2 separate regions of the Homo sapiens genome follow, and region 1 is linked to region 2. Evidence: fine-mapped expression QTL. Tissue or cell type: whole blood. Region 2 holds a variant in brackets; the other region holds the start of a gene. All regions are shown on one strand. Distances are from middle to middle.

What was found. PIP is the estimated chance that this variant, and not a neighbour inherited with it, causes the effect.
Region 1: ELMO3 starts here. The variant in region 2 is fine-mapped to the expression of ELMO3 in whole blood (TOPMed, PIP above 0.99).

The regions. Positions count from the first base shown.
Region 1 is chr16:67,198,160-67,200,659 of GRCh38, reverse strand. It overlaps ELMO3 (engulfment and cell motility 3), which reads right to left and starts at 1,529. Exons shown (of 20, transcript NM_024712.5): 1 at 1,256-1,529; 2 at 1,067-1,107; 3 at 904-976; 4 at 659-709; 5 at 299-468; 6 at 110-209; 7 at 1-3. The coding sequence starts at 1,333. It overlaps E2F4 (E2F transcription factor 4), which reads right to left. Exons shown (of 10, transcript NM_001950.4): 10 at 1,742-2,500. RefSeq lists a silencer at 2,134-2,193.
Region 2 is chr16:67,176,386-67,179,130 of GRCh38, reverse strand. It overlaps MATCAP1 (microtubule associated tyrosine carboxypeptidase 1), which reads left to right. Exons shown (of 7, transcript NM_001040715.2): 5 at 627-932; 6 at 1,024-1,121; 7 at 2,156-2,745. The coding sequence ends at 2,320. Among named protein-coding and RNA genes, the nearest start is that of MATCAP1, 6.2 kb to the left of the region's middle. RefSeq lists enhancers at 76-617, 618-1,161 and silencers at 507-666, 937-996, 2,744-2,745. The variant G/A (reference allele first, on the strand shown) is at 1,587.

The DNA of each region.
Region 1 (2,500 bases), 22 kb before region 2:
CACCTGTAAGGGGCGGGGGTGTCACCACCTCACCCCCATGGAAGACCGGGTCTACCACTGCCCCACTGCTCCACTGCCCCCACCCGCTGCCCTAGGAAAGCCCACCCACCTTCCTCACAAAGGGGATGCTCAGAGTCTCCCAGGACACCACGCCGTGCTCCATGAGCTCTGAGAAGGCCCTCAGGCTGAGGGCCAGCACCTCTCCTAGGCTGGAGGGGGGACATCTGGGGCTGAGCAGGACCACCCCAGGACCAGAAAGACCCACCATCTCCCCCAGCCCACACATCCCTGTGCTCACTCGTCCCCATCTTCAATGATGGTGCCTAGTATCTGGAGCCCATTACGGCTGATGACCTCCCTGGCAAAGATCATGTCCGAGGCCAGCGGAACAAGGCGCCTCAGGGCTTCCCGGCGCCCTTCAGGACTGTTACTCTGCAGCCCACCCAAGAGCTGCTCAGCCTCAAGGTCCTGGCAGGAACGGAGCAGGAGCAGAGGTGAAGAGGCTGGGCATGGTAAGGGTGGGACCTGGAAGTGTGCGGCCCCGGGCGTCAACTAGGTGGCGCAAGGCAGGGCTGGGGCGGGGGCCTCCGGGGCGGGGGGCCTCTGGACCTGGAGCAAAGGGGCAGGGATGGGGAAGGCGGGACGGGAGGGGCATTACTGGGGCCGTGCTGAGGCACAGGATGCTGCCATTCTTGATCTCCGCGCGGTTCTGGAGAAGACAGCAGAAAAGGCAGCGAGGTCAGGGAGGGCTCCGAGGACTGATCAACTGGGGTGTCGGTGAGGGCGGCTGGGGGTGAATAACAGATCGCGCTCCGGTAGTGGGATGAAGAGCCAGAGTTATCGGGGCCAGGTGGGTTAGAGGGGTCGGAAGGCCGAGCTTGGGGCTGGGGAGAGGGGACTCACATTCTCGGTGATGTATCTCCGGTGCCCATCCGCAAACTGCAGGGCGTAACGCTCAGAGTGCGTCAGGCTCCACCTGAGGGGCACGAGGCTCAGCGAGGCCGGCAGGGGGCGCCGCCCCTCCTGCCCTCCCGCCCTCCGCAGGCCCTGGCCCGGCAGCACTCACGCGTCGCACACCTCCTTCAGCACAGCGGCCAGGGGCTTCGCCTGCAAGTGGAGTGGTCATTCTCGCGGCCTGGGCAGGGAGGGATGGGGAGGAGCCTGGGGGGAGGGGTGGGGCGGGCTGCCCCGAGGGCCAGGGGGCTACCGGGAGGTGGGGCAGTGGGGCAGATGGAGGCGGGACCAGCCGGGTGACCTGGTCCAGCTGGATGAGCTGCGGGATGGCGTCACGCATCTTGATGGCAATCTTCACCACGTTCCGCGGAGGCGCCATGGTCCAGCTGGGACGTGGGCGCCTGCACTTTCCGGAGACCGTGCACCTGCGGCCAAGGGTGCACCTGGCCTGGGGCCCCTGGGGACGAGGAGGTCCTCCCTTTCCGAGACCTGACCTCGGTGTCCCGCACTCGCGGCCCAGACTGCTGCTCCTGGCCATGCAACGCGGCCTTCCCAAGGGAGCCGAGGTTAGTTCCGGGTTGGAGTCTGGGGGTAGGAAGGTAGGACGGCTCCGCCTGCCCCGCCCCGCCGAGGCGGCCCCGCCCCACACCAAGGTGCGGCAGGTGGGGGCGGGGAGGGCAGGCTGCCGGAGGCCGCCCCACCCCTAGTTCCAGCAAGGTGACCCACCCAATCACACTGCCAGTCCAGCACAGTCCCAAGGAGGGTCCCCAAAGAACCACATCAGAGCTAGCCTTAGGCATGGTTTTTATTCACTTGAACACTGTACAAATATTACAATTTCCTTTTGCTGCAAAAAGTATAAAAATAATCTTTATATAGGAATCCATTCGTTACTGTAAATCTTTCTAAATCTCTGCAAATGGCTCTAAATGAGGGTAAATGAAAAAGCCGAAATGAAGAGAGGGTTATGGGGCAGCAGGAGGTGGGGCCAATCATCAGGGCTGGACCACCCAGACTCCTCCCCAGAGACCTCTGTTCCTTCTTGGTAGCCGCCCCCACCACCTGCAGGTTCTAGGGCTAAAGGCCCAGCAGAAGTGGGCACGTGAGAGGGCCAGGAGGAGCTGGAGGGTCAGGGGGTGGGGGATAGCGAAGGAAGCTAGAAGTGGTGCTGGCATGTGCCCAGTTCCACCCCACCCTTCCCTCCTAGGGGAAGGAGCTGGCAGAAGCAAGACACTGAGGCTGGCAGGAACAAGACACTGCCCCCTATGGGGGGTAATGGCAGCTCCTCGGTTCTGTGCCACTGGGTGGCAGCCGAGCCTGGGCTGGCGAAGGCCGCAGAAAGGGAGAAGCAAACACTTTGGCTCCACGGTGATGGGGGCTGAGTCCTGTTCCCCTGCTCTGCGAGCACAGAAGTGCCAGCACAGGAGCGGGAGCTGTGGCCAGAACTGTGCGGTGAGGGGAGGCCGGAGAAGCCAGGCGTCTGTGGCTCTCAAGCTCTGTAGGGGTCGGGTGGGAGAGGTCCCCAGGCAACCCCCAGGTCAGACAG
Region 2 (2,745 bases):
CGGCCAGAGAAAGAACCCTCAGGGTCCCACCAGGCCAGCCACCACGCTGGCCCTCCAGGGTGGATGGAAGGCCAGGTCCTGGGAATGGACTTGACTTGAGGACACATGGCACCTGGTTTAGGAGGGGACTGGCCAGTTTGGGCAGGGGGGTGCAGGGCACTAACCACTATTCCTATCTGTCTGTCCCTCTTCCTCGAGAATCCTGTTGCTCTGGGCAAGAGTGATTTTTACCGGGGGCATCAGCATGACTGTTCAAGATGATATGGGCACCCAGGATGTTGGGCAGGGTGGTATATGTATTCTTGTGCCCAGGAGGGCTGGGGGCAATGTCAGTTTGGGAGAGTTCGTGCACGTGTGTGGGTGCGTGGGTGTAGGGTGGGGGGCGGATGGGTGGGAGAGGATTCATGTATGTGAGCCTCTGTGGATCCTTGGGTGCGAGTCCACAGGAGGAGGAGCTTCACGCTGCCTGGGGCTGGGAGAGCCTGTGTGCGAGCCTGAGTTCAGGAGCATGAGGATGGAAGTGTCGCGGCCAGAGCCCCGGCCAGATGGAACAGGGCCAGGGCTGGGCTCGCAGGCGGGTCCCCGAACGCCCCGCCCAGCGCCGCCTCCCCTCGCCTTCCCCGCAGGCACCCACTACCTGCGGGGCGTGAACAACGCGCGCCAGCCGTGGCACAACGCGGAGGGCCGGCTGCGGTACGGGCTGCGGCCGGCGAACCCCACGGAGGAGGGCCTGGCCAGCCTGCACAGCGTGCTGTTCCGCAAGCAGCCGTTCCTGTGGCGCGCTGCACTGCTCTACTACACCATCCACCGCGCCGCGCGCATGTCCTTCCGTCAGCTCTTCCAGGACCTGGAGCGCTACGTGCAGGACGCCGATGTGCGCTGGGAGTACTGCGTGCGCGCCAAGCGCGGCCAGACCGACACCTCGCTGCCAGGTGTGCGCCAGCGCGGGGGAGGTGCCTAGAGCCGGGGTGGGGGCGGGGCTTCGGGCGAGGGGCGGGGCTCACCGCCCTCCTGCCCTCCCAGGTTGTTTCAGCAAGGACCAGGTGTACCTGGACGGCATCGTGCGCATTCTGCGACATCGCCAGACCATCGATTTCCCGTTGCTGACCTCACTGGGCAAGGTGAGGGGCTGTGGACCTTCAGAGGTCCCAGCCAGCTCCCTGCCTTGCTGTAGAATTCCCTGAGCCTCGGATTGGTGCTAGACCGAGGGCTGGGTGTCAGGCCTGTGGTGGTAGGGGGGAGCGTGGGTGGAAGTGAGAACAGGAGATGAAATGACTCTGGCAGCAAAACCAGGTGCTTAACGGAGGCTGCAGGTGTATGTAGATACTGCATCTCAAAGGAGATGAGCATTCCAGGCCAAGGGAGTGATCAGGAAGGCCAGGGGAAGAAGGCTGCAGAAATGGCCAGGGACCAACTCCCTGGCACTGGCATTTGTGCCAGGCCGAGGAAAGTAGATTTCATCTGAAGCAACGGGGAGTGAGAGGAGCTTTAAGCAGAGGAGTGACTCTGATATTTGCTTCAGAAGGCTCCTTCTGGACATCATATGGGAGGTGGATTGGAGAGAGGACTAGGGAAGGGAGTGCAGG[G/A]GCACGGAGGAGGCCTTGCCTGTCACTCCTGCAGAAGGGATGGTGGTCTGGCCTAACCAGGCAGTGGCCGCTGGGTTGGAGATGAAGGGACAAGCTGGAGAGCTCTTCAGAGAGGGGAATACTTTTAACTCAGCGGCTACCCTGATGGGAGGGTGAGAGTCCAAGCCCCCTCCCGGGAATCTGACCTGGGTGACTGTAAAGAGGGTGGAGCTGGCATAAGCTGGCACTCAGGAGTTGACTTTTGGACATGGGGCCATCCTGAGGGTTATCCAGGGGAAGACATTAAGGAGGCAGTTGGATGCCCATGTTTGGAGGTGAGGGTCTGAGAGGCTGGGCTGGAGAGAGAAGTGGGGTTGTAGGGCATCTATGACAAAAAGAAACTGTTGAGAGAAAGGGCAAAGATGAAGGATTGAGTCTAGAGGTATAAAACGTTGTAGCTAATTGTGGATCAGGAGGGGAGAGGAAGAAGTCCCGGAGCAAAGGCTGTGAGCTGTAAGCAGTGGGCTGGGACCAGCTACCTGAAAGCCAGGGGCCACTGCCTATGCCTGATGCCCGGCTTCCTCCTGCAGGTGTCCTATGAGGATGTGGACCACCTGCGGCCCCATGGGGTGCTGGATAATACCCGGGTGCCCCACTTCATGCAGGACTTGGCACGCTACCGGCAGCAGCTGGAGCACATCATGGCCACCAACCGGCTGGATGAGGCGGAGCTGGGTCGCCTGCTACCCGACTGATGTCCGTTGAGGGCTGCAGTCAGAGGCCCTGGACAGAAGCTCCAGATAGGCCCCTAGAACATGAAGCAGTTTGCTCTGTGCGTCCACGGCCTAGGTGTTTCTTGGGGGTGTTGGGAGGGCAGGAGCATTCCTTGAGGAGGAGTGGCAACATCAAAGTGTTTGTGTCCCTTGCCAGCCTCCCTGGGGTCTGGGGACCTGCAGCAGCATGTCTGGCAAACTGAGTCGCCCTCCTGCCTCCAGCTCTCTGTTGAGCAGAGGGAAGGCATGGGGGCAGGAAGAGAGCTGAGCATTGATGGGGATGGGGGTGGTTTGGGAATAGAAACTTGTTCTTGCATGAGATGGCTTTGGTTGTCCCAGTACTCCAGTCTCTCCCTTCCCTTACCTGGCCCCTTGGTGCTCCTTCAGCATTTGTGCTGTCTACCTCT